Homo sapiens: one gene and its partners. The protein of the gene in region 2 purifies or fractionates together with the protein of the main gene of each other region. This does not show direct contact. Each region holds a gene or a part of one and is shown on either strand. Other genes may lie near its edges.

Region 1 (7,444 bases), on a different chromosome or scaffold from region 2:
CAGATCCCTCTCATACTTCCTCACAATCACTATTCCCTTTTCATCCCCCCAAGGTAACCATTGTCCTTACTTCTAACATCCTACAGTAATTTTGTCTGTTTGGGCTTACAGATAAATAGGATCATATAGTAAAAATGCTTGAGTCTGGCTTCTTCCACTTAACATTATGTTTGTGAGATTTGTCCACATTGTAGTTTGTAACTGTAGTTGATTTATTTTCTTTCTGTATAGTATGCTATGAAAACATAATCATATATTCACCCCTTCTGCTCTTACTGGACATTTGGGTTGTGTGCACTTTTGGGGTATCTCTAACAATGACATACACTCTTGTATCTAATTGCACATTCTTTTGGGGGCACATATGCATATACCTCTTTGAAACTATTTGGCCAAGGACAGGCTTAACATCTGTAGATACTACCAAATATTTTTCAGGGGCATAATTTGCAGTCCCATTAGCAGCATATAAATATCACAGTTTTCATTTTTCTACATCTTCTCCAACATCTAAATACAGATGAAGTATTTCTGATGAAAATTTGATGTTGGAATTGGGTAGTGCAGTAAATGCAAAATATATAACGAATTTCAAAGGCTTAGTTTAAAAAAGTAAAATCTCAATTATTTTTTAAAATTGAAGGCATGTTGAAATAATATTTTGGATGTATAGGGTTAAAAATTGCTAAAATAAATTTCACCTGCTTTTTTCACCCTTTTAATGTAGCTACAAGAAAATCCCAAATTATGTGTGGCTTACACAATAGTTCTAATTGGATAGTGCTGCTCTAACACCATCAATACCTAAATTAGTAGAAAACTAAAAAATATGCCTGTTAAAGTATGGATATGTTGGTTGCAAAAACTACAGAATACTCGTTAGAAAAGCTGAGTTAAGTGCTCTATTCCAGCAGAGAATATCCCAATTTAGATACAGATATTGAACACTTGTTCAATATTTGGATCTTTTTTTTTGCAAGACAAAATTGAATGCTAGTCACTTTATAATTTGTGCCTTCTAAAAGGGAAAACCTTAATCCTAAGTTTAAAATAAAATGTGCACTGACTACAGCATGGTAGTAGATTATTTTAGTAACAAGAGATTCAACAAGTCTTCTCGGCTAGTGCTTTAAATCGTATATGCCCTATTATAAAACCGGTGAAACCAGAAAGCAAACCGTCCTCCTCACACTGCCCAAAACAACTGCCAATAGAGCGCATACTCATATGTCAAAGCCAAAACGATGACAGAAGTTTGGTCTTCCTTTCAGCTAAATAGTGTTAACAGGTGGTGGCTGGGTGAAGGCAGGAGAGTGCCTGTTGCTGGCCTTAGGCCTCAGATAAATAAGGAAATGACTGAATGAACAATTTAAAACTACACACACTAGTCAGTGTAACTATCTAGTAAGTTAAATACGCCATGACATCTAATGATGGCCTCTGAGACAGAGAGCAGGCTAGAGCCGGAGCGTTTGACGTGATTACAGCAGAGTGGAGGCGGTTCCTTCCTGGCTATATTAGCTGAAACCCAAAGCAAATCTTGCCCCAGCACAAGGCACCCCTTTCTGCGCCTGTAGTGTGTCAGCTATGTGCATTTTCCTTCAGGATGAGCAAAAATATTTCGTCATCCTCCCCGCTCCTCAACAGCGCAGAAGATGCCGAAAAGCAATTACAGGACCTTACAGAGCTGCTCCGGGGGCCGCGGGAAACTTACCAGCATCCTGGAAAAGACAAAACCAGTGGGGTGCACTTGGCCTCTCCTGGCTGCAGGGTGTGGCCGCCCCCACCTTTCACCTTCCCATCCTTAGGAAGCAAAGTGACCCCTAAGCCTAGACAAAGCTCTCGAAAGCCCAAAGCCTCGGGCCCACCGGCCAGCTCCCCACCCCGCTGCTGGGCCGGACAGGTGTAGGGGAGGCGGACCCGCCCCGCAGCCGACTCACCCAGCTCCAGGGCCTGGTCGCACCTGAGCAGCGCGGCCTCCGGCTGCTGCTGGCGCTGCAGGCTCCGCGCCTGGCCTGCCAGCCTGCGCAGCCGGCACTCGGCCGGGAAGCACTTCTCCAGCAGGCCGCTCAGCACCACGTTCACGCGCCGCACCTGCGGCCGCGCGGGCCCTGGCTCCACGCAGCGCTTGCAGACTGTGAGCCCGCAGGGCAGCGTCACCGGCTTATGCAGCAGCCGCCGGCAGCGCGGGCAGCCGAGCAGGTCGCGGGGCGCGCGGGGCTCCGGGGCCGGCCCTCCCTCGCCGGGCGCCTCGGGCTCGCCGCCCGGGTTCTCCGCGGACAGCGGCCGGTCGCGCAGGCCCACGGCGCGCACCAGGCCGCCCGCCAGCTCTTCCAGCTCCTCCGGCCGCAGCGCCCCGAGCCGCGCGGCGCCGCGGAACGCGCCCAGGGCTTCGGGGAGGCGGCCGGCGCGGGCCAGCGCGTCCCCCAGCCTCAGGCACAGGCCGCGGTCCGGCTGCGCCAGCCCGGCTAGCATGGAGCGAAAGAGCTCGGCTGCCATCTCGTAGTCGCCCGCGCGGAAGGCCTCGTCGCCCTCCTCTAAGCGCTGGGCGATCGGCTCCGCGCGGTCGCAGCCAGGACACTGGGGCGGCGGCGGCGGCGGGACCGGCTCGGGGCTCATCACCGCGGGGCTGCGACGACGCGGGTCCGGAGCGAAGGCGCGGAGCAGGGAGGATGCGCTGCTGCTGGGAACTGGCCGGCGGGAGCGCGGTCTCAGCCCTCGCCAGCAGCCACGCGCGTCTGGGGGCGGCGCGCTGCGAGCGGCTGAGACCGCGGGCGGGGGCGGGCGCCTGGCTTGGGCAGCGTCCTCAGCGCGGTGTGGGCGGCGAGCCCCGCAGGGCTGCAATCGTTCCGGGGTGGGGGCCGGGACAGGCACCGCGGGCGCAATCTGAGCCCCTGCCCACGCGCAGCGGCCTCTCAGTCCCGCCGGCTTAGGTAACCCAGGTCGCTGCGGTAACGCAGTGACCGCGCTCCAGGTCCGCGTCTCTTGCGATGCTTCCCCCACTCGCCTGAGGGCTCCTGCGCGACTGCGCGCGCGTCCTCTGCCTGCCGCCTCCCCGCAGAGGTGCCGGGGCCCTGGGAGCAGGTGGCCTTGGCCGCGGGCTGCTGGCGCGCCGGCACCGCGGCACCTGCTCTTCCCCAGAGGCCTGGCCGCCCCCACAACCTGTGGCTCCGCTTAAGCAAGAACCCAGGAAAAGTCACCAAACGCATCACGCATCTCTAGCTTCGACTTAGGAAATTGTCCTAAATGACTGGGGAGGCTGAAGTGGGCACCCAGAGGCCCCGCCTCAGCGAGCTTCTTCTCTTAACTCTAGGCTGAGGCCTTTGAGAACTCATTTTAACAGAGAACGTGGAGGGCCAAGAGAACCAGATACCAGGAGGAGGAGGGATTCGAGAAGTGGACAATTGTATTGTGCCCTTGATTAGGAAGCAGAAATAGAATTAGAAATAGAATTCTAATTAATAGAATTAGAATAGAAATAGAAAGGGTGCCCTAGTATGGAGTACTGCAGACATAAGTTGCTGGGGAGAGGGAGCTAAACGCTCCGTTGGTGTACAAGCAAGGTTTAAATTAAAATCCTCTGTGCGTATTAACCGGGTTCATAATTTCTCCTATATAGCCTATGTATTTCTCCTATGTAGCCTGCTCCCTTCTTCCTGTCGTCACAGTATCTGTTTTATCCTGTGTATTTGAATACAATAAAATGCATTACAATATTCTAGAATTCATACTACTGTTCATATTTCAAGAATAAATTTTTTTAAAAAATTGGAGAGGTTTTTCTACATCTAAAACTGCTGGCTAAAGAAAATATACAATACCTCGACCACATCTGGCTTTGGGAAAGGAGAAATGCCTCATTAAGTGAGAGAACATTTTAGACCAGTTCCTAAAAGGGAAAAAGGGGCAATTTTTGGCCAGCCCTCTAGTTCTACAATAAACAAATGCAGAGTACCCACCTCCTTTTCCATGAAGGATTTCCCCCAGCTGTCTACCTAACTTAATTGATAACAGTGTACTGTTTGGGTCTCTTTTTCATTACTGAATTATTTCAAATTCACTTTTTCAATCACTGTTTGGATTTTTATCTGCTTTCTTTATAGAATAACAATTCACTTATATTTGAGGGTCATTTATCCATCAAATTCACAACCAACAATCAGGAAGCAATGGGGAAAAAGCTTCAGAGCACAGACCATACAGTAAAGATTGTGAAACCTTATGATCTCAGATCCTATTTGTTCTTATTTTAGACAAATATCTAGCAAGAGAACAGAAAGAAGCTTGCCGGAGGTATGCCTGCTGAGAGCCAGAAGTGTTTAAAGCAAAAATGTTAGTGTGTTGTGAGGTTTATAACACATAGAAATAAAATATATCACAAATATAACACAAAGGCAGGTAGAGGAGAAATGGCAGGATACTGTTGTAAGGTTCTAATGCTATATGTGAAATGGTATAATGTCACTTTAAGAAAGACTGTAATGAGTTAAGGATGTGTCCTCTAACCCTAAAGCAACCTCCTAAATAACACAAAGAGCTATAGTTTAAAAGCCTATAGAGATGAAATGAAATTGTTAAAAAAAACTCTATTAATCCAAAAGAAGGCATAAAAAGAGAGGAAGGAAACAATTAGATAAAACAAATAGAGAACAAATAGCAAGATGGCAGGTTTAAACCCAATTATATCGGTTAATGTTCATTAAATATTGTCTAAATACCATAATTAAAAGGCAAAGATTGTCAAAAGGAAGACCCAGATATATGCTGCCTACCAAAAAAGAACTTTTAAATATGAAAATACAAATAAGGTAAAGGTAAAAGGATGGAAAAAGATGTTCTAGTTAACTCTAAGCAAAATAAATCTAGAGTGACTATATTGATAGCTGACAAAGTCTATTACATAGCCAAGAACATTGCTAGGAGAAAGGACAGCCATTTCATAATGATAAAGGTGTTAGTTGGTCAAGAGGACATAATAGTCCTAACCGCGTGTGTTCCCAATAACAGAGCTTTCAAATATTTGAAGCAAAAACTGATAGAACTGTAAGGTGAAATAGGTAAATTAATAATTATAGTTGGATATTTAAATATCCCTTTTTCACCATAAAAAGAACAAGATCATGTCCTTTGTAAGGACATGGATGGAGCTGGAAGCCGTTATCCTCAGCAAACCAACACAGGAACAGAAAACCAGATGCTGCATATTCTCACTTATGAGTGGGAACTGAACAATGAGAACACATGGACACAGGGAGGGGAACAACACACACTGGGGCCTGTCGGCGGTGGGACCGAGGAAGGGAGAGCATGAAGAAAAATAAGTAATTCATGTGGGGCTTAAAACCTAGGTGATGGTTTGATAGGTGCAGTAAACCACCATGGCACACGTTTACCTATGTAACAAACCTTCACATCCTGCACGTGTACCCCAGAACTTAAAAATAAAACACCCCTCTTTCAACAATTAATACAAGTATACTGAAAATCAGTGAGGCTATAGAAGACTTGAGCAATTCTACAAACCAACTCAATCTGATTGATGTTTATAGAACACTCCACCCAACAATAGCAGAATACACATTCTTTCCAAGTGCACATGGGACATTTACCGATATAGAACATCTTAGAGCCATAAAACAAATCCCAATTTAAAAGTATTCCTTCTAGGGCACTGATACATCAATAAATTGGATCAAATTGAGGACTTCTGCTGTTTTAAAGACACTGCTAAGACATGCTACACACTAGGAGAAAATATTTGCCGATCACATAGCTGATAAAGTACGAACCAAAAATATATAAAGAAATCCAAGAACTCAATAAGAAAATACAGAACTGGATTAAAAAGTGAGTGGAAGATTTGAACAGTCATTTCATTACAGAAGACATATTGATGGCAAATAAGATGCTCAGCATTATGAGCCACTGGGGAAATGCAAATGAAACCCCAAGCAGTTAGTACTGCACACCTAGTGGAATGTCTGTGATTAAAAAGGCTGACCATGCTGAGTGCTGGCAAATACAGGGCATATGCAGAACTCTCACACATTGTCAGTGGGAGTGTACCATGGTGCAGCCACTTTGGACTACAGTTTCTTAAAATGTTAACTGTATACTTATCATATTAACCACCCATTCCACTTCTAGGTATTTATCCAAAAGAAATAAAAGCATATGTCCATTCAAACACTTCTACATGAACCTTCATAGCAGCTTTATTTGTAACAGCCCCAAGCTAGAAATAATTCAAATGTCTTTCAACGGGTGAATGAACAAATTATGATTTCTCTACACAATTGAAAACTACTCAGAAATAAAAAGGAATGAACTATTAATGTATCAAATAACATGTATGAAATTCAAAATAATTATGCTGAGTGAAATAATACAGCAAGATAGAGTACGTATGTATAAATTATTCTATTTATACAAAAATCTTAGGCTGGGTGCGGTGGCACATGCCTGTAATCCCAGCACTTTGAGAGACCAAAGCGGGCAGATTGCTTGAGCCCAGGAGTTCGAGACCAACCTGGGCAACATGGTGAAACCCCTTCTCTACTAAAATTACAAAAAATTAGCCAGGCATGACAGCACATGCCTATAGTCTCAGCTACTCAGGAGGCTGAGGTAGGAGGATCGCCTGAACCCAGGAGGTCAAGGCTGCAGTGAGCTATGATTGCACCACTGCAGCCTGGGCGACAGGAGTGAGACCCTGCCTCAAAAAAAAAAAAAAAAAATCTTGAAAGTATGAGTGAATCTACACTAATAGAATCTACACTACACATGAGTGGTCATGTGGGGATGGGAAGAGGGATTACAAAGATCCATGAGGAAACTTTTAGGGATGATGCATACATTTGTTACCTTGATTGTGGCGATGTTCTCATGGGTGTATTTGTGTGTCAGAACTTATCACAATGTATACTTTTTTATTACAAAAACCATTTTTTATAGAGATGGGGTTTCACTGTGTTGCCCAGGCTGGTCTCGAATTCCTGAGCTCAAGCGATCCATCTGCCTTAGCCTCCCAAAGTGCTGGGATTACACACATGAACCACTGCACCTGGCCTATATACTTTAAATATATGCATCTTATTGTATTGCAATTATACCTCATTGGGGCTGCTTTTAAATATGTGTCGATTTAAAGAGAGGTACTCAAAAATTAAAATTTTAAAAAATATATAGGATGCTTCTAAAGCTATATTTCACAGAAAACTATAGCCTTAAATGCTTGTGTTAAAAAATAATAAAAACTAAAAAGCAATGTGTTAAACATCTAATTCAAAAAGTTGGGGATTAAAAACCAACAGAATAAACCCCAAAAGTAGTAAGAAGACAAAGAGAAGAAACTAGTGAATAGTTCTTATCTTGGTAAAAAGAAGATACAGATATCAACTCAAAAGGTGAGAAAAAGGAGCAAACGGGCAACAAAATGAAACAC
Region 2 (7,027 bases):
CTTCCCAGACAGGATGTTGGACAGCTATCACATATAATATGTGTGAATGAATATGATAAATGTGTCCTTTGCAACAAAAAGTCTCATACAATTTATGTAATTATAGGCATGCTGAATGAATAGTTTAGAATAATGTGCCAGTGTCATCATCAAATCGTATCTTTGTATACATGTGTAATCCATTTTGCACAATGGTTTCAATTCACTGTGTATGTAATTAAATTGTAAGATACGGTAATAGCGGCTGCTGACTTGAAATTCTCCTTTTTCATTTTAAAGAAATGAATAGAAAACATAGTCTAGTGAACATCAAAGTATTTTTTGAGACTGTTAAATCTCATCAAAGAGGTCTTCTGGGCTGCTGTTTCTCAGAGTTTCTAAAGACATGTTTTCAGCTGAGATGTGCTCCTTTTTAGACGTCTCAGGTAGTGAAGAATCAGGCCTAGAACTGAAAAGAAAATCAAAATAGTTTTATTTTTAAAAACTTCTGTTATAGAGTAAAAGAAAATGAAGAGACACATAAGTGAAATGACAGTTAAATCCTGTTTCAAATTGGTTTAGAGATTTATTTCTCTATGCTATTAACTATAAGGAAAGAGATAAAGAGACTAATTTCTCTAACTGCTTTAGAATTAATGTCTCTATTCTGACCTAAGGAAAATTCAAGAACCTATAACAATACTCATAATCAAGGTCAAGAAATAAAATATTCTGTCCTCTGTGCTATAATCACTTTTATGCCAGGATATAGAAGGTTTTTCAAGTTACTCCTTTAATGATTTCATCACAATTTACATTTTACTCTGGCTTTCTTAAATTCTACTGATTAACATGCATTTTAATCTCTTAGCAGCAGAAAGTTTTGGTCACATGAATTACCTTTAGTGGGTCTGATGATCATGTGTATATATGAAAAATAATGATTTTTCACATTTATAGCAGTTGCTGATGAAATGTTGGTCCATAATCATTTATTGAATCTGCATATCTTCATTTAGTAAACTAAATTTTATTCAGGTTCAGTATTGTAGTCACTACTTCAATGGATTGACTGCTATATTTATGTAGATATTTTCTTTGAATCCTAAGATAACAGGCTGACTGCCATGATCACTATTAATTGGTCTTAGGAAGACTGTGCCAGAGAATAACAGAGCTCAATCAGAAGTAAAGCTGTGGAGTGTGTGTTAATATCCTTGTAGAAACCTTGTCAGTGGTTCTCTATGGAACCTTAATAAAGTATGCTTAATATTATCAATTAGAGGTGGCCTCTGGGGCAATTATGATTAGGTTGAGCTAACCCAGTAATACTTGGTAATACCCCTCTATTTCCAAGTTCAAAGGCGGGGGTAGAGTCACAACACCTTGGTATAGCTGAGAAAGCATGGGACTTGAAGTCAGGAAACACAAGTTTGAACCCAGGTCTATTTCATGTTAGCTATGTAACTTTAGGCAAGTCATTTAAACTAAGTGGGCTTCTATTCTGTCCACTGTAAAACTGAGATATTAGTATTTGTCTAGAGGTGGTCTAAAGATGAAATGAGTTGATGTAAATGTAAATGCTTGTAAATTCCCACAAAGAATTTGGAAACTATTATTATTACCTGCTAATACCCCATAAACTATGTAAGAGTTTCGTTAACAGCAGAGAAGAATAACCAATGAAAACCCCCAAATATCAAGTGTGTTTAGGTGATGAGTATTTTTAAAAGCCTGCACCCTTACCTAGTTGCACAGATTATTAGAAATGAGTTCTCCTTGGCATCTTGATTAGAGACAATTAACTACAGTTGGCTGCCACTAGACCTGGGACATGTTCTGTCTTATTCTGAGCAAGCCAATTTCAGACAACATCATCACAGGAGTGCCAAGGTGCTAGGCATTAATGCATTCAAGATGACAAGTACTACCCTCTGGGATTTGCGATGTTAAAATTAACAATAAATACAGGCATAATTATTGTAACATGGAATTAAATATCTAAAAATATATTCCAAAGGAGGAGAAAATGATATAGTATGGGATAAAAGTATAATTATTATATATATACATTTTCATTGTCAACTCAAAACACGTTAAACATTTTTCTCTGGCCAAAATGTCTTAGAGTTGCTTGTGCTCCTCCTAGACAAAAGAGATAACTGAACTATCTCAATTAAAAGTAAGAAATGGAAAAACAAGCAAGGTGAATACAATAAATGGTGCATGGAAAACTGGCTAGCCATTTGCAGAAGATTGAAACTGTGCCCCTATGTATTAGTCCATTCTTGTATTGCTATAAAGAACTACCTGAGACTGGGTAATTTATAAAGAAAAGAGGTTTAATTGGCTCACAGTTCCACAGGCTGTACAGGAAACATGGCTGAGAAGCCTCACGGTAGAAGGTGAAAGGGAAGCAGGCCCGTCTTACATGGCCGGAGAAGGAGGAAGCGGGGGGTAAGATGCCACACATTTTTAAACCAGATCTCATGAGAACTCACTCACTATCATGAGAATGGCAAGGGGGAAATCTGTCTCCAGGATCCAATAACCTCCCACCAGGCCCCTTCTTCAAGATTGAGGATTACAATTAGACATGAGATTTGGGTGGGGACACCAATCCAAACCATATTGCCCTACCTTTCAACATATACAAACATTAACTCAAGATGGCTTAAAAATTTAAATGTAAGATTTCAAACTATAAAAAACTTAGAAGAAAACCTAGGAAATACCCTTCTCAACACTGTCCTTGGCAAAGAATTTTTGGCCAAGTCCCCAAAAGCAACTGCAACAAAAACAAAAATTGACAAGAGGGACCTAATTAAACTGAAGAGTTTCTACACAGCAAAAGAAACTATCAACAAAGTAAAGAGTCAGCTTACAGAATAGGAGAAAATATCCTCAAAATATGCATCTGTCAAAAGTCTAATATCCAGAATCTATATGGAACTTAAATCAACAAGCAAAAAGCAAATCACCCCATTAATAAATGGGCAAAGGACATGAACAGACACTTCTCAAGAGAAGACACACAAGCAACCAACAAACATATGAAAAAAAAATGCTACACATCACTAGTCATCAGAGAAATGCAAATCAAAGCCACAATGAGATACCATCTAACACCAATCAGAATGCCTGTTATTAAAAAGTCAAATAATAATATATGCTGGAGAGGCTGCAGAGAAAAGGGGACACTTATACATTGTTGGTGGGAATGTAAATGACTTCAGCCACAGTGGAAAGTAGTTTGGAGATTTGTCAAAGGACTTAAAACATAACTATCATCCAATCCAGCAATCCCGTTACTGGGCATATACCTCCCAAAAAACCCAAAGTGTTCTGCCAAAAAGACACATGCACTGGCATGTTCATTGCAGCACTATTCACAACAGCAAAGACATGGAATCAACCTAGGTGGCCATAATTGGTGGACTGGGTAAAGAAAATATATTACATATACACTATGGAATACTACACAGCCACCAAAAAGAATGAAATAATGTCCTTTGCAGCAACATGGATGCAGCTGGAGGCCATAATTCAGAGCAAATTAATGCAGGAACAGAACACCAAATACCTGTGTTCTCACTTATAAGTGAGAGCTAAACATTGGGTATACATGGACATAAAGATGGAAACAATAGACACTGGGGATTACTACATGGGGAAGGGAAGGAGGGGTCATGGGTTGAAAAACTACCTATTGGGTACTATGCTCAATACTTGGGTGATGAGATCCCTATCCTAAACCTCAGTATCATGCAATACACCCCTGTAACAAACCCGCACATGTACCCCCTGTATCTAAAATAAAAGCTGAAATCATATTTAAAAAGTCAGACATGGAAAGATCTCTGTAATTGTGTCCATTGTTTAGATACTGTGAACCAGAACACAGAGATCTATCAATTTTGTTTTAAAAAAATCAGCATATGACCAAAGGACCACTCTGAAGTGACCAGACTGAAGGATAAATAGATTCCTGGTGCTCCACTTATAATTTACATTTCCTTCTGATGTCATGAGGGGCTTAAGAAATAGATTTTGACCCCTGTTCATAGTGCCTAGTCATAACAGGTACTCAGTAAAAGTTGTCCCGAATGGAGATCATTGAGCTTTTATATCTATGGCAAGTCAATAGAGTAAATTTAGAACTCTCTCCACAACTCTTAAAAAAGTTTTATTATTTTTACAGGTAGTAAATGTTTATTGTTAGACTTTTTGTAAATTCTGAAAAGCATAAAAAAGAACACAAAAATGTTGATATGGTTTGGCTTTGTGTCCCCACCTGAATCTCTTTTTGAACTGTAATCCTCAATGTTGGAGGAGGGGCCTGTTGGGAGGTGATTGGATCACGGGGGTGGACTTCTCCCTTGCTATTCTTGTGATAGTATGTGTGTAACCAGAGAAGTGGGGCATTGCTATAAAGGTATCTGAAAATATAGAAGCAACTTTGGAACTGGGTAATAAGTAGAGGTTGGAACAGTTTGGAGGGGTTGGAAGAAGATAGGAAGATGAGGGAAAGTTTGGAACTTCCTAGAGACTTGTTAAATTGTTGTGACCAAAATGCTGATGGTGATATGGACAATAAAGTCCAGGCTGAGGTGGTCTCAGATGGAGATAAGGAAGTTATTGGGAACTGGAGTAGAGGTCACTCTTGCTATGCTTTTCTGGTGGAAGAAATTTCTAAGCAGCAAAGCATTCAAGGTGTGGCCTGCTGCTTCTAAAAGCCTACTCTCATCTGTATGAACAAAGAAATGACCTGAAATTGGAACTTATATTTAAAAGGAAAGCAGAATATTAAAGTTTGAAAATTTTGCAGCCTAGCCATATGGTAGAAAAGAAAAACCCATTTTCTGGGGAGGAATTCAAGGCTGCAGAAATTTGCGCAAGTAAACAGGAGCCAAATGTTAATAATCAAGACAGTGCCTCCAAGGCATTTCAGAGATCTTCATGGCAGCCCCTCCCATCACAGGCCAGGAGGCCTAGGAGGGCAGAATGGTTTTGTGGGCCAGCCCAAGGGCCCTGCTACACTGTGCAGTCTTGGGACATGGCACCCTGCATTGTGGCTGCTCCCGCTCCAGCTGTGGCTAAAAGGGGCCAACATGCAGCTTGGGCCATTGCTTCAGAGGGTGCAAGCCTCAAGCCTTGGTGTCTTCCATGTGGTGTTAAGCCTGCAGATGTGCAGAGTGCAAGAGCTGAGGCTTGAGAACCTCCACCTAGGTTTCAGTGGATGTATGGAAATGCATGGATGTCCAGGCAGAAGTCTGCTGCAGGGGTAGAGTCCTCTTGGAGAACCTCTACTAGGGCAGTGTGGATAGAAAGAAAATGTGTGGTTGGAGCCCTCAAAGGGACACTGCCTAATGGAACTGTGAGAAGACAGCCACCATCCTCCAGACCACAGAATGGCAGATCCATCATCAGCTTGCGCCATGCATCTGGAAAAGCTGCAGGCACTCAATACCAGCCTATGAAAGCAGCCATGGGGGCTGTACCCTGGAGAGCCACAGGGGCAGAGTTTCCCAAGGACTTAGGAGTCTACCCCTTGCATCACTGTGCCCTGGATGTGAGACATGGAGTCAAAGGAGATTATCTGGGAGCTTTTAGATTTAATGACTGCCATGCTGGTTTTCGGACTTGCATGGGGCCTGTAGCCCCTTTGTTTTAGCCAATTTCTCTCACTTAGAATAGGAGAACTTACCCAATGCTTGTAATCCCATTGTATCTTGGAAGAAACTAGCTTGGTTTTGATTTTATAGGCTCGTAGGTCGAAGAGACTTGCCTTGTCTCACATGAGACCTTGGACTTGAACTTTTGAGTTAACACTGGAATGAGTTAAGATTTTGGGGGACTCTTGGCAATGCATGATCATGTTTTGAAATGTGAGAAGGGGATGTGGGAGGGGCCAGGGATGGCATGATATGGTTTGGCTTTGTGTCTGCACCCAAATCTCATGTTGAAGTGTAATCCCCAATGTTGGAGGAGTGGCCTGGTGGGAAGTGACTGGATCATGGGGGCAGACATCCCCCTTGCTGTTCTCACGATAGTGTGTGAGTTCTCATGAGATCTCATTGTTTAAAAGTGTGTAGCACTTCCCCTTTTGCTCTCTCTCTCCTGCCAGTCATGTGAAGATGTGTCTGCTTCCCTTTTGCCTTCCACCATGATTGTAAGTTTCCTGAGGCCTCCCCAGCAGCATAAGCCTGCACACCCTACAGAACTGTGAGCCAATTAAACCTCTTTTCTTTATAAATTACCCAGTCTCAGACATGTCTTTATAGCAGTGTGAAAAAAGACGAATACAAATGTCTACTATCCTATTTTGCATTACTTGTACATTCACAGCCTTTTTTTTACAAAAATGTGATCATTCTACACATTTATAGTTTTGCAGCTTGATATTTTTACTCTATAATATATTAGAGATGTATTTTCATGTTGAAAAATTTAGATCTACATTCATCATTGATTTTAATTTTGATGTACTATTAGTTCACTGATAGAGGTTTGGGTTGGTTCAATTTTTAAATGCCCTTATAAACTAGACAATTAGTATCCTTATACATATATCTTAGCATATTTATCATATTTTTTTCATGAACATGCCTTCTCCAAGAAATCACGCTTAGAGGTATAATTTGAAGTAAACAACTCAGAGAACCTGTATCTAAAGTTTTAATGGAAAGTGAGAGAAACAAATAATTAGAAACTTGGGTGTTCTTAATGAAATTATAGCCATTAGTTACAGCTCTGTTTAAATTCTAAACCTTCCACAAGGACTTACTTTTTTTCCATGTTCCTATTTCATTTCATATTTGTAATTTTTATTTCCTCTGGTCATTTACAGTACCTAATATCTGTATCTTATACTTCAACATACAGTTTTGTTTATTTAATCAATACTGTACTTGTTGATTATACACTATGAACAGCTCACTGTGTTAGGAAAATAGAACAAATATAAGTGTTACTCCTGCTCTCAGAAAGCTTTAAGTTAAACATTTACTTTACCTAATGTTTTCAAGTGTGTCTTTTTATCTTAAAA
Region 3 (6,850 bases), on a different chromosome or scaffold from region 2:
CAGAAAATAAATGGAAGACAAGGTGTGCACGCATCCCAGAAGGGCGGGAAGAGAGACGCCCGCACTCCACCTGTCTCAGCAGCACCGTCTCATTCCAGGCCAGCGCCAGAAGCTGACATCACACCCCACGCCCTGGGTGCAACTTGAATAGATCGTTGCTCAATGCCAACCCATCTCCCTCCAAGACTGGGCACGGTTTTTCCATCACCTTAGTAGCCAGGTCCAAAAAGCACACACACAATAAAACAAACACAACACAAGCCTGAGGCATGACAACACAATCAACAGTGGCAGACAGGAGGGCCCGGCCCATCCCTCCCCAGTTTCACCATTGAGAGCAAGTGCCTGCTTCCCTAGCCTGCCCCAATGACATTGACCATGAGGGGCGGCGAGGTGGCCTCCCTGTGGCAAGGCACCAGGCGGGCCATTCTCAAGTCCTCCAGAGAAACAGGTAACCCAGGAGAGAAGCCCGTCTCCCAGTGGAGTGTAAGACCTACCCCCAGGAAGCTAGGCGCCACATGAGAGAGCTTGAGGACTCTCAGCATTTCTACTCCCTGCTAGCTTGACAAAGTGCCTATCATCTTTAATAACACCAGCATGATTACTTTATACCTCCCAAAGAGCATCACCATCCTGCTGTCTCCTCGAGCAACTGTGGGCAGATTTTATTATTCCCATTTCTCTGATGAGCAAACAGGCTTTCAAGTGATTTGATAATCTCACCAGCAGGTATAAGGCTGGCATTTGAATCCTACCCAGTTGCTAGCCTGTCCAATGGGAGAATACGGAAGGAGACCTATGCCCAGCTCCCTGGACAGACCTTTAGAGATGGAAGGAAGGGTCCTTCTCAGTACATCCTCCAAGCCCTGGAGTTCAGAGCCAATAGCTCCGAATGGAAGGCTGCCTGTGCCTGGAACAGCGATTGCCAGGGCCAGAGGGCCCCTTCCCCAGCCAGGCCTGAGATGCCAAAGACAGACCCTTCTTCTCTTATGGGAAGAGGAGGAGGATAGGAGACCCCTCTCCTCTTATCGGAAAGCCAAGCAGACAGTATTGTCGGCCAGACTGCAGACAGGAAGCAATGACAGTTTCCCAGCTGGGGAATCTGGGCTAGGCAGGAATGCACTGGCCAGTCTTGCAGAGTCTGGACCCCAGTTCTAGCCAGAGATTGTGGTCTCAGTCCATTCAATGTCCAGTCTCCAGCCCAACATTATCTTCTCCTGGGGGCTTTTAAGGCTGAGTTTGTTAGGGCTCAATAAACCATGAGACTCAGGGAGTGGGGAGAAGAGGGATGAAAGGAGGCATTTTATAAAAGCTTGTGAGCAGTCTGTTGTAGTTGTGGTTATCCAACCCAGCAAGCTGGACCTTACAGAGCTGGAGCAAGACGGCAGACACTGGCCCCAGGGGGTAGGGGCAGATCCATCCATTTTCAAAAACGTGATCTCATTTAATTCAAGAAATAAAAAGGCAGTGGGTTGGTTAGAGTTTTTCTTTTCATATGTTGAGGGAGGGGAGCATATTTCCTACTTCCTTGGTAAAAATACTTATGCTAGGAGACAGACTAGCCAGGAGTGGTTAAAATCTCTGGTTGAAATCCCGGTTTCACCACTTACTCGCCAAGCCACCTTAGGCAAATCACTTAGCATTTCTGCACCTCGGTTTCCTCATCTGCGAGATGAGGATAAGACTGCCTTACACAATACGCTGTATTGTGCTGAGAATTAAATGAGATCGCATAAAACACAGACAGTTATTATGTCACCTAGAAAACAATGTGCCTCACCAGTGACAGCATCGAGGTGGCCCCCACGGTAGCCAGCGCCCGCCCCCATCCTGGGATCTAGATAACTGGGCCTTCCTGGCGTACGTAAGACGCTCTGCAAACACAGCTTCCAGCCCACCTGCCAGTACCAGCTGCCCGCCCGGCCCCCGTCCCGCATACGCATTCCGCGGCAGCCTGGACCTGGGCGCCCCGTCCCAGGGCGGCGGGGGAGGGGCGGCCACTCACCTCCGCTTATACTCGTCGCGCTCGCGCTTCACCTTGGCCAGCACGTTGTAGAGCGCGCGGATCTCCGGCGTGATGGTGTCGATCTGCACGCCCACGCCGTCGGGGTGCACCCACGACACGCCGGGGCCCTGCACGGTCTCCACGCCGCCGCCGCCCGTGCGCCGCACCTGCGTGTAGCTCCAGATGGTCCCGGGCAGGCGGCCGTAGTGCTGCGGGTGCGAGCCGCCGCCGGGGGGCAGGCCGCCCAGGGCCACGGCATTGGCGTTGGCGCCGGCCGCCGCGCCACTGCTGAGGCCGTGCCCGCCGCCGGGCGCCGGGGGCCGCAGCAACTCGGGCCCGGTCTGCACGGCCTGCTCGCGGGAGAAGGTCTTGTAGCGCAGCCGCCGCTCGCGCTCGCTCTGCTGCTGCTCCAGCTGCTTCTCCAGCAGCCGGTTGCGCCGCTCCAGCTCGTGCACCTTAGCCAGGAAGCAGCGGAAGCGCACGTTGAGCCCCTTCAAGAGGTGGATGTTGGAGCCCAGGTCGTCCCGCAGCGCCGCCGTCACCGGCGACGGACCCGGCCCTGCCCCGCCGCCGCCGCCGCCCCCGCCAGGGCAGCCCCCGCCGCCGCCGCCCGGCGGGCAGCCGAAGGCCAAGGCCATCTCCCCGAACAGCAGCGAGTTCACCATGCGCCGGCTGCGCGGCTCAGGGCCCCGGGCCCGCGGCTCCAGGTGCGGCTCCAGCTCCGGGCAGGGCTCCCGGCGCGGCCGGGCCAGGGTGGGCGCGGGCTCCAGCGCGGCCGGCCGGGCGGTTCCAGATGCGCGCCAGATGCGGCCTCCGCAGAGACGGCAGGACGGATGGCCCCGGATGCGGGCGCCGAGGCGAGAGAGGGCACTCGGCCGCTCCTCGGGACGCGGTGGAGGCCGCGGTATCTGCGCGGGGCCAGAAGGGTCGCGGGTCTCACCGCCCGGGCTGTCAGAGACGCTGTGGAGGGGCCGCGGCAGCCGCACGCAGAGGACTCTCGGCCGGCACTGCCCCTTCTGCGGCGGGCCCCGCCCACTGCAGACACTGGCCCCGCCCCCGCCGCGGCCCCGCCCACCCCTCCTCCCTCTGCGGCGTTCCCCGAGCCCGAGGCTCCGCCCCACGAGGCCCGCAGCGCCGGGCCCCACCCACAGACCCTCGGCTCCGCCCACCTCCGGGTTCTCCCGCTTTCTCCGCAGCATAGACTCCGCCCAGCTCCCCGGCGGGGCCACGCCCTCTCCTGCGTCTGGTCCTGCCTCCCCGCCGGGTGCCGATTCTCTGCTGGGGGACCCGGACCGCAGAGCTGCACCAGGGACCGGGTTAGCTGGAACCGCCGCAGAGCCAGCCGGGCCTCTTAAAGGGGCCAGCAGCCTCGGCAACGCTCGCTTTCCACTTTTTAGGGCGCTCCTCTCCCACGTCGCCTGCCGAGAGGGCTCCGTTTCTCTGTCCTCTCTGCCCGCAATGCCCCTGGCCCCAAATTCCTTCGGATGTGCGCGACCGCGGCTGGAAGGGCTGGGGGACCACAGTATCCGAAGGTGCATCGGCACCCCACCCCCACTCTAGCCTGGGGAGGCCCAGATCGACCTTTCGGGGATAAGAGGGCGCCCGTGCCCCACGCTGCGGACCCGGGGGTGGGCTCCTCGAATGCTAGCTGCGGGCCTTGTCCTCTCGAGATCGGCCCGGGCACAGCTAAGCCCGCTGGTTCCCCCGCCCACTGAGGAGCCGAGCAGCATGGGGGTTGGGGAGGCCGAGCAAGACCCTCCCGGGATGACACCCACAAACTCGGCCTGGGCCTCGCCTCTGCTGAGCTGCTCAGCACCTCCCCACCACCCACACCCACACGCTGAGATGAAGCTGACCCCGAGAGCTGGGGATTCATTTCACAGACATGGGGCTTAGCGGGCCGCCTGGGGCAGACCGAGGCAACCCGAGGACCCATTCATTCATTCATTCATTCATTCAAATGTTTTCACACCTACCACGTTAAAGGCCAAGTTCTCCAGTCTCTGGTGTCTCCTGAACCGTGTTGCAAACATTAGTATATGTCAGGCGCCATACTTATTTATTATCCCCATTTTACAGAGAAGGTCACTGAGACGTTAAGTAGCCACAATGGTCCAAAGTGCATGCTCTAACCGGCCTTCCACAATGCTGGCCTCGGGCCTCGTGTCCATTTCCGCATTTGGTCCTCACCGCAAACCTCAGAGGGGAGGTGACCCCCACCTTGAACCCCCACCTTTGAACGCCTGTGGCTTGCATTGTATGCACTTAACCAGATATGTGGCATGTTTCAGATACTTCCGACTGCATTTTTTACTAGCAGTTTAATTTTTGTCTTGTTATTAACTTTTGTGTTTGTTTTGTCTCTTTGTATGTAAGCTTGAGGACAGGCACACTGTCTTACATGGACAATGCCTTGGTGTTCTTGGTGACAAAGGAGACACGGGCTTGCCCTGGAGTGATGTGGCTGTGATGTTAGTCTGCTGTGTTTTTGATTTAGCCACAAAAGCAAACCTTCCCCATAGTTCCTTCCCTCAACCACAGTTCCTTGCTTCCTGCCAACACGGACTCACCTTAAACACCCAGCTCTGAAACTCACTCATCTAGAAACCTTTCTCTGCTTAACCCAACCCAGTCTGGACACTGCCCTTTACTCTTCGTTCTCTCGTCTCTTGATGATGTTCTTGTTTATCTAACCTAAGGAATCAAAACCCCTTTGCCTTGAAGCAGAGGTTCATGGACCCCCAAGAGGACTGAGGATAGAATTCTGGGGGGTCCATGACACAGGGGTGGACAAAAGTTATACCTTTAGCCTCACTAATCTCTAAAGGCTTTGTTGTCTGTTTGTTTATTTGTTTGTTTGAAACAGAGTTTCACTCTTGTTGCCCAGGCTAGAGTGCAATGGTGCGATCTTGGCTCATCACAACCTCCACCTCCGGGGTTCAAGAGATTATCCTGCCTCAGCCTCCCAAGTAGCTGGGATTACAGGCATGCGCCACCACACCCGGCTAATTTTTTTGTATTCTTAGTAGAGATGGGGGTTTCTCTATGTTGGTCAGGCTGGTCTTGAACCCCCAACCTCAGGTGATCCGCCCACCTTGACCTCCCGAAGTTCTGGGATTACAGACGTAAGCCACCGTGCCCAGCCAATGGTTTTTAACATATCCTTTGATTATGAATGTAGGCAGCAAGTAGATGTCCCTGTGATTTTGTCACTAGTAGAAATCACAGGTATTTATGTAACACACTACAGTTATTGTAAACATCTCAAGATATCATCTAAGCTACGAGAACTGTGAAATTAAAGTCATATTAGACCGACCACTAAATCTTATTTAATGTATTAGTAAAAGAGAACGTATGTTACTATATGAGAAATTGTTAATAGTTTGATATCTATTTTTAGTAAAATGACTTTTCATAGTAATCCTAATGCCTTTTTAAAAAAATTATTCTCAGAAGGGGTCCACAGGCTCCACCCAATGCCTGAGTGGTCCCATGGAAGAGAAAGGGTTAAGAAGTCACACCTGGGGAGTGGCTCCCTGCAACCTCTTCCAGGAAGGATCTGTCCTTCCAACAAAGTTGCCCTGGAATTGGGGTGTGCAGCCCTCCTTGAGGGTGGGGGCAGCCCTGCCCTGGGCCCTGGAGATATTCAGACTTTCCGTGATGACTTGTGGAGCACCTGCTTCGGCACAAATCCTGCATTAAATGCAGAGGAAGGAGCTAAAGGGGCTCCAGGGGAGCTGATGGAGACAACCAAAAAAGACCATCCTGAGGCATGGGAGTGGGTGCAGAGGGGGGAAAAGGAGATGGCCAAGCAGAGCCCAGAAGATCTGAAGGAATTGAGGGAAGTGGTAGCTGGACCTGAGAGGGTTTTCAGCTGAACCCTAGAAACATGATATGTGCAAACAAAATGGCTTGAAAATAGCTTCGTGGCCACATAGGAATAAAGGCGGGTGCTGCGTGTCTTGCTCTTTGTGGGTAAAATGTGAGGTTAGGTTAACCTAACAGTCCTCCAGCTAGGGTGACCAACCATCCCAATTTATCAGGAACTGAGAAGGTTTCTCTTGATGCTAAAACCTGGAAAGTAAATCAGAACGAGCAAATCAGAACAAATGTGTCACCCTACTTCCAGCCCATATCAATCTGGAGGCATCTGAGGCCAGAAGTCCTATAGTTCAGGATACAGCCAGCCCAGATTTCTTGTTTCAGGGACCAGAAAACTGAGGACCACAGAGAGGTAAGGACTGACCCAGGTCTCCTGAATAATTGGTATCAAAGCCTGGTCTGGAATTCTGGTCCCATTCCCTTTCCAATGGTAGGTCCTCCCTGGCCCAGACAATGAATTCAGTGGTCTCCTCCCCTTAACCCCAGACACTGGCAGGCTGGCTCCCCCATTCAAGATCCAAAGGGGGCTAAAGGTGGGTCCTCAAGGCAGCGGAAGAGTTCCAACAGACAAAGGAACATCCCTGTGGGGGACGCCAGCCTCCTCTCACTAAACAAGGATAATTAGGTTTTTGTTTTTTGGCAGGGTACCTCCCCTTGACCCTCAAAGTCACAGCGGTGTGTCTAACCTGTCCAGACTGTTTTTGGAGGCAAGAGTGGGGAGTGGAAAAAGGTGGGCTTTTAAGACAAGAGATTGGCTAAGGTTTGTATCTAAGTCACTTTACCTCTCTGAGGCTCTATTTCCTCATCAGGGAAATGGGCATAACTGCTCTCAATGAACAGTTGCTGAATGAATGAATAAAAGAATTAAGAAATGAATGAGAAAATGACTTTTATTCTTCCTGCCCCACTCCCCAGCCATTTCACCTGCTAACAACTCCTCATCCTTCAGGTCCCAGCCTC
Region 4 (7,027 bases), about 43 Mb from region 2:
AGGAGAATCACTTGACCCCGGGAGGCAGAGGTTGCAGTGAGCCGAGATCCTGCCATTACACTCCAGCCTGGGCAACAGAGGGAGACTCCGCCTCAAAAAATAAATAAATAAATAAAATGAATTACGCAAATCTTTACATTCACTATAAGAAACTAAAAATACAAATCAGCTAGGAGCAGTGGCTCATGCCTACAATGTCCAGCACTTTGGGATGCTGGGACGGGAGAATCACTTGAGCTCAGTTTGAGACTTGGATCAACATGGCAAGACCCCTGACTCTACAAAAAAAATTAAAAATTAGTTAGGTGTGATTGGTTATATGCCTGTAGTCCCAGCTACTTGGGAGGCTGAGGAGAACTGCTTGAGCCCAGGGTATTGAGGCTGAAGTGACCTGGGATTGCACCACTGCACTCCAGCCTGGACAACAGAGTAAGACCCTGTATCAAAAAAAAAAAAAAAAAGAAAGAAAAGAAAAGAAAAAACAAACAAAAATATTGTATTTTAAATACAAACTTACAAACTTTAAAGTCACCCATAATCCTACAAGGTGTTTATTTTAATTAAAGGCAGCTGGACAGTATAGAACCATACCACACGAATACGATGGTTCACAAATCCCAGTTAAAACCACAGACCAACTGGAAAGGTGGCTGTCCCAGCCATCAGTCTTTCTAGCCACACTCACACTGCTAGCTAGGATGAGGGACCATACCAGACACAGCACCTCACTCCTGGGCCCTCCTTAATCTGGGCACCTTAATCCCTAGAGATGAAGTGCTGGCACAGCCTCTTCCTGGCAGGGCCTGCCTCTTCCTGGCAGGGCCTGCCTCCTCCTCTCCAGCCCTCCCATCTCTGCCCTGATGTCACCCCCTTGCTTATAACCCTGTGGATTTTGGATACCTACTGTAGCTATTCTCAGAATAAAGTCCAATCTCCTTGTCAGACAAAATCTCTTCCCGAGGTTCTCTTTCCACTCTATCTGCCCTACCACTGCACCCTCCAGCTGTGCTGAAGCAATGCAATCCTCCCAAATAAGCCAGACCCTCTCAGCCTTCACACAGGCTTCTTCCTTCTTTAAAACAACTTCCAGCACTCCACTCCTTCTCCTCTTTGTCCCATTTGGGACCTTACCTTGGCTAACCTTCTCTTGGAGGCCTTCCTGGACTGCACTCATGAGGCTGGGTTAGGGGATCCCAGCTATGTGCCCACCATCCTACCGTTTACTCCCTCATATTACTTACCATGCTGGATTATGCTGGATATAATTACCTGTTTATTTATCTCCCACTCTAAGGTATAATTTATAAGCTTATAAATCCCTTGAGGACAGGGACTATGCCTTATAGCTCGAGTATCACCTAGTAGACTACCCGGCACCTGATAGATGCTCCATAAGCATTTATTGAATTAATAAAGCCAAAGTTACCCCAAAGTCTCTACATAAATGAGTAAACTGCTTTAAAAAAAAAAATAGAAGTGTAAGCTAGGTGTGGTGGCTCATGCCTACAATCCCAACACTTTGAGTGGCCAAGGCAGGAGGATTATTTGAGCCAAGGAGTTCTAGACCAGCCTAGGCCACATAGTGCAACCTCGTCTCTACAAGAAAAATTTTTAAATTAGCTGGGCTTGGTGGCATGTGCCTGTAATCCCAGCTACTCAGGAGGCTGAGGTGGAAAGATTGCTTGAGTCCAGGAGGTCCAAGCTGCAAGGGGCTATAATCACACCACTGCACTCCAGCCTGGGTGACAGATCCTATCTCAAATAAACAAACGAAAATGTGCAAGCAATTGAGAAAAATTTTAATTGTTAATTGTGAGGCAGGCATCATAGTAGGTATAAATCAAATAGTTACCTGCTTGCACATGTACATATCCCCAAATTGGAGGTTTATTGACTGTATTGTTGTTATTGCTGTTGTTGTTGAGACAGAGTTTTCTTCTGTTGCCCAGGTTGGAGAACAATGGCGTGATCTCGGCTCACTGCAACCTCCGCTTCCCAGGTTCAAGTGATTCTCCTGCCTCAGCCTCCCGAGTAGCTGGGATTACAGGAATGTGCCACCATGCCCAGCTAATCCGTATTTTTATTAGAGATGGGGTTTTTCCATGTTGGTCAGGCTGGTCTTAAACTCCCGACCTTAAGTGATCCGCCCACCTCTGCCTCCCAAAGTGCTGGGATTACAGGCGTGAGCCACCACGGTGGGCCTATTAACTTTTCTTAGCTAGAAAAAAACTCTTGAAAGTGTTCAATGACATAAAATTAATATTGGATAATGGGAATCATTGCTAGATATCTAATTAAGGACATTAAGTGTCCTTAATTAGACTTAAAAAGACTCCCCCAACTCTTTCTACAAGTAGGGAATTTACTCAATATTCCAAGAAAAAGAGAAAAATATGATTTTTTAAAAAATATTATTTCCTTATTATAAATGTAACCTAATAACCATCATGGAAATTTAGAAAATGCAGAAAAATAGAAGAAAATCCACTACTAGTAATTCTGCCACAGAGATAACCACTGCTACCACTTTAGCATACACTTCTATCCCACCATTGCCAATGCAGACATACAGTCACCTGTTTTGCTCTATCCACATTGCAAACATCACAAATTGCTTACACTCTTAACCTCATTTTTTTTTTTTTTTGAGATGGAGTTTCGCTCTTGTTGTCCAGGCTGCAGTGCAATGGCACGATCTCGGCTCACCGCCACCTCCGCCTCCCGGGTTCAAGCGATTCTCCTGCCTCAGCCTCCCGAGTAGCTGGGATTACAGGCATGCGCCACCATGCCTCACTAATTTTGTATTTTTAGTGGAAATGGGGTTTCTCCATGTTGGCCAGGATGGTCTCTAACTCCCGACCTCAGGTGATCTGCCCACCTTGGCCTCCTGAAGTGCTGGGATTACAGGTGTGAGCCATCTTGTCCAGCTTTTTTTTTTTTCTTACTCTTGCTGTCATCTTAGTATCTTCATTGTTAAAACCTCAGAGTATAAGATTGGTTCTTACAGAACAGCTTGTAATAGCAAAACACTGAAAACAGCCCTACATATACATCATTTGGAAGCTGACTAAATAAATTATAGTCTCTTTATAACAAAATAGATAGCTGCAAACACAGATGAAGGAAGCCCCTTAATAGAATAATACGAAAACAATTTCCAGCCTGACACAGTGGCTCACGCCTGCAATCCTAACACTTTGGGAGGTTGAGACAGGCAGATCACCTGAGCCCCGGAGTTCGAGACCAGCTGGGCAACACTGCAAAACCCCACCTCTACAAAAAAAAAAAAATAGCCAGGTATGGTGGCATGCACCTACAGTCCTAGCTGAGGTAGGAGGATCACCTGATCCCGGGGATGTTGAGGCTGCAGTGAACTGTGATCATGCCACTACATTCTGGCCTGGGCAAGACAGTAAAATCCTGTCTCAAAAAAAGAAAACAAAAAAACAATTTCCAAGATATATTATTGAATATAAAAGTATAAAACAGAACGTACAGTTTGCGGCCGGGCACAGTGGCTCACGCCTGTAATCCCAGCACTCTGGGAGGCCAAGGTGGGTGGATCATGAGGTGAGGAGTTCAAGAGCAGCCTGGCCAGGATGGTGAAACCCCATCTCTACCAAAAATACAAAAATTAGCCGGGTGTGATGGTGCACACCTGTAATCCCAGCTACTCAGGAGTCTGAGGCAGAAGAATCGCTTGAACCCGGGAGGTGGAGGTTGCAGTGAGCCAAGATCGCGCCACTGCACTCCAGCCTGGGCAACAGAGCGAGACTCCATCTCAAAAAAAAAAAAATGTATAGTTTGCTACATATTTGGCTGTACGTGCTCTAAAAAGATACACAAGGGCCTAGGAAGGTGGCTCATGCCTATAATCCCAGCTACTCGGGAGGCTGAAGGGGAGGATCACTTGAGGAGAGAAGTTTGAGACCAGCCTGAACAACACAGCAAGATCCTACAAAATATAAAAAAGACACACAAGAAATTGAAAGCATTCACTACTTCCATGGGGTACTATGGCTTAGTCATGGGGGTAGGAGGGAAACTTTTAATCCTTCAACCTTTTATTGCTTTCTTATTTTCTGATATGAATCTATCGTTTCTTCAAAAAAAATTAACATTAGTATAATTTAAAAATAAGTAAATAAAATCCTCCCGTAAAAGTGTGGGTTAGGGGAAGACAACCTTCACAAACATTATTTTTAGTACATGCTAATAGTCTACCAAAATTGGCTTAGATTTTTTCCCCTTATGATTCGACATTTAGGTCATTTCTAATGTTTTTTATTGATGCCACAATGAACTTCTTTAAACATAACTTCTGTCTTATTTCAGATTATTTACTTAGATTCTTAAAACTGGGCTCTTTAAAGTTAGAGCTCTTTGGGTATATTTCCAAATCGTTTTACAGATGAGTTAAAAGTGTCTTACCCGTGGACTTGCCAACATTAAGTTTTATCTTTAAAACAAAAAGGTTCTTGATCTAACATTTTCATCTGTTTTAATTTGCATTTCTTTGAAAGATTGAGGATATTTTCACATATTTATGCCACTTGAAATTTCTCTTTTGCACAGTCAATAGCCAGAGTATTTTATTTTTTTTGGAGCTCTGTATATCAGAGTACAAAACTCAGCTTAACTAATTTCATTGCTTACTTTCAGAAGGCAAGATAGGTCCTCCAATCATCCTTGATAAACCAACAGCATAGTCACAGATATCCACATACTCCTGAACTTCACCCACACCTTCCACTAAGATTTTCCCCATCTCCAAAGACACCTAGAAATATAAAACGACAAGCAGAATTTTTCCAACAGAATTCACATTATAAACATTAAATTAAAGAAAGGGGGAAGCAAAACATGTTTTGTAAATGTAATAAACTGAAGAAAGTCTGTTTCATTTTCCAAAGAATTTTAAAACACAACAATTGCCTTCACTTTTTCCTGTCTACCTTGTTAATCTTTCCTCTAAGGAAAGAATTTTTAAAATATATAAAGTACAACCGGGCACAGTGGCTCATGCCTATAATCCCAGCACTTTGGGAGGCCAAGGCGGGCGGATCACCTGAGGTCAGGAGTTCAAGACCAGCCTGGCCAACATGGTGAAACTTTGTCTCTACTAAAAATACAAAAATCAGCCGGGCATGGTGGTGCACACCTGTAATCCCAGCTACTCGGGAGGCTGAGGCAGGAGAATCGCTTGAACCCAGGAGGGGGAGGTTGCAGTGAGCCAAGATCCTGCCATTGCACTCCAGCCTGGGCAATAAGAGCAAGACTCCATCTCAAAAATAAATAAATAAATAAATAAATAATAAAATATAATATAATATAAATTACTTTTCTTAAAAACTCTTCTAGCCAAGTGTGGTGGCCCATGCCTATAATCCCAGCACTTTGAGAGGCCGAGGCAGGCAGGATCACCTGAGGTTAGGAGTTCAAGACCAGCCTGGCCAACATGATGAAACCCCATGTCTACTTTAAAAATACAAAAAATTAGCCAGCCGTGGTGGCACAAGCCTGTAATCCCAGCTACTCGGGAGGCTCAGGCAGGGGAATTGCTGGAACATGGGAGGCAGAGGCTGCAGTGAGCCAAGATTTTACCACTGCACTCCAGCCTGGGTGACAGCAAGACTCCATCTCAAAAAAAAAAAACCTCACAATTTTATATATAGAAAAGCATGACAGCCTTATTGTCCACTCAAAGAATTGTGTATATACTACAAAAATACTTTACCAAGCTTCCTAGTACTTGGATCTTCTCCCGCAAGGCATCGCCAATCTGTCTTACTATTTCTCCTCGTTTTGGAGCAGGAATCTAAGAAAAGAATGCAATTTTTGTGTCTGATTCAAAGCATAAATTCATGTTTATAACACAGTATTGGATGTGTGCTGTAAAAGAACAAATTACAATCATATCAAAGAAGACTTTTGATCACATCAAAACTGTGATATGGCCAGGCACTGGAGCCAAAATAAGAAGCAAGGCATTCATGGAGCAAATATCTACTGGAAGGCACAGAGGAGAAGAAAAGGCAACAAATAATTACAAATTGCCAACAAATAATTACAAATTGCCATCAGGGTTTTAAAGACAAAGGAAATAAAAAGGAAGCTGAGACAGAGAAAAACAGCAAGATTGGAGGGGAAATGGGTAAGTTACTTTACCTAAAAGGATGGCAGGAGGCTGGGCGTGGTGGCTCACACCTGTAATCCCAACACTTTGGGAGGCTGAGGCGGGCAGATCACAAGGTCAGGAGTTCGAGACCAGCCTGGGCAACATGGTGAAACCCCGTCTCTACTAAAAATACAAAAATTAGCTGGGCATGGTGGTGTGCGCCTGTAATCCCAGCTAGTCAGGAGGCTGAGGCAGGAGAATCGCTTGAACCCAGGAGGCAGAGGTTGCAGTGAGCTGAGATCACGCCATTGCACTCCAGCCTGGGCAACAAAGTGACACTCCATCTCAAAAAAAAAAAAAAAAAAAAGATTGCAGTGGTAACAAGGGAAACAGCAAGTGGATTCACGGTCTGTTTTGGGAGTAGAATTGACAGGACACACAGATGCAGGAAATGAAGAGAATTAAAGAACTCAGGATAACTTCCCGCTCTCTGGCTTAAATAGGTAGGTAGATGAAGTATAATTACTGGGATGAAGAAGACTTGAAGGGAAACATCAGGTTTTGGGGGTAAAGAGCACAGCTTATGTCACATAAAGTTTGAGATGTGATTTATGAATGAGACACAATTTCTCCAACTGTGACCATCACTCCCTCTCTCCCATCAAGTTCTTCCCAATTCTGCCTCTCCTTCAAAGTACAGCTAAGGCTGGGCGCGGTGGCTCACGTCTATAATCCCAGCACTTGAGAAGCTGAGGCAGGTGGATCACTTGGGGTCAGGAGTTCAAGACGAGCCTGGCCAACATGGTGAAACCCCATCTTTACTAAAAATACAAAAATTAGCCGGGCATGGTGGCAGGTGCCTGTAATCCCAGCTACTTGGGAGGCTGAAGCAGGAGAATCACTTGAACC

What was found.
Region 1: the proteins of XRCC4 (region 2) and LONRF2 purify together in Homo sapiens (affinity purification with mass spectrometry; 3 studies listed by BioGRID and IntAct, with this or other methods). This does not show direct contact.
Region 3: the proteins of XRCC4 (region 2) and IFFO2 purify together in Homo sapiens (affinity purification with mass spectrometry; 4 studies listed by BioGRID and IntAct, with this or other methods). This does not show direct contact.
Region 4: the proteins of XRCC4 (region 2) and ALDH7A1 purify together in Homo sapiens (affinity purification with mass spectrometry; 3 studies listed by BioGRID and IntAct, with this or other methods). This does not show direct contact.

Annotation. Positions count from the first base shown.
Region 1 is NC_000002.12:100,319,475-100,326,918, forward strand, and holds the start of LONRF2 (LON peptidase N-terminal domain and RING finger protein 2), read right to left. Parts: upstream 3,028-7,444; 5' UTR 2,620-3,027; coding exon 1,941-2,619; intron 1,908-1,940; exon of another isoform or gene 1,715-1,907; intron 1-1,714.
Region 2 is NC_000005.10:83,346,546-83,353,572, reverse strand, and holds part of XRCC4 (DNA repair protein XRCC4), read right to left. Parts: intron 449-7,027; coding exon of another isoform or gene 443-448; coding exon 331-442; 3' UTR 1-330.
Region 3 is NC_000001.11:18,953,663-18,960,512, forward strand, and holds the start of IFFO2 (intermediate filament family orphan 2), read right to left. Parts: upstream 3,015-6,850; 5' UTR 2,671-3,014; coding exon 2,006-2,670; intron 1-2,005.
Region 4 is NC_000005.10:126,578,195-126,585,221, forward strand, and holds part of ALDH7A1 (alpha-aminoadipic semialdehyde dehydrogenase isoform 1 precursor), read right to left. Parts: intron 5,819-7,027; coding exon 5,738-5,818; intron 4,781-5,737; coding exon 4,657-4,780; intron 1-4,656.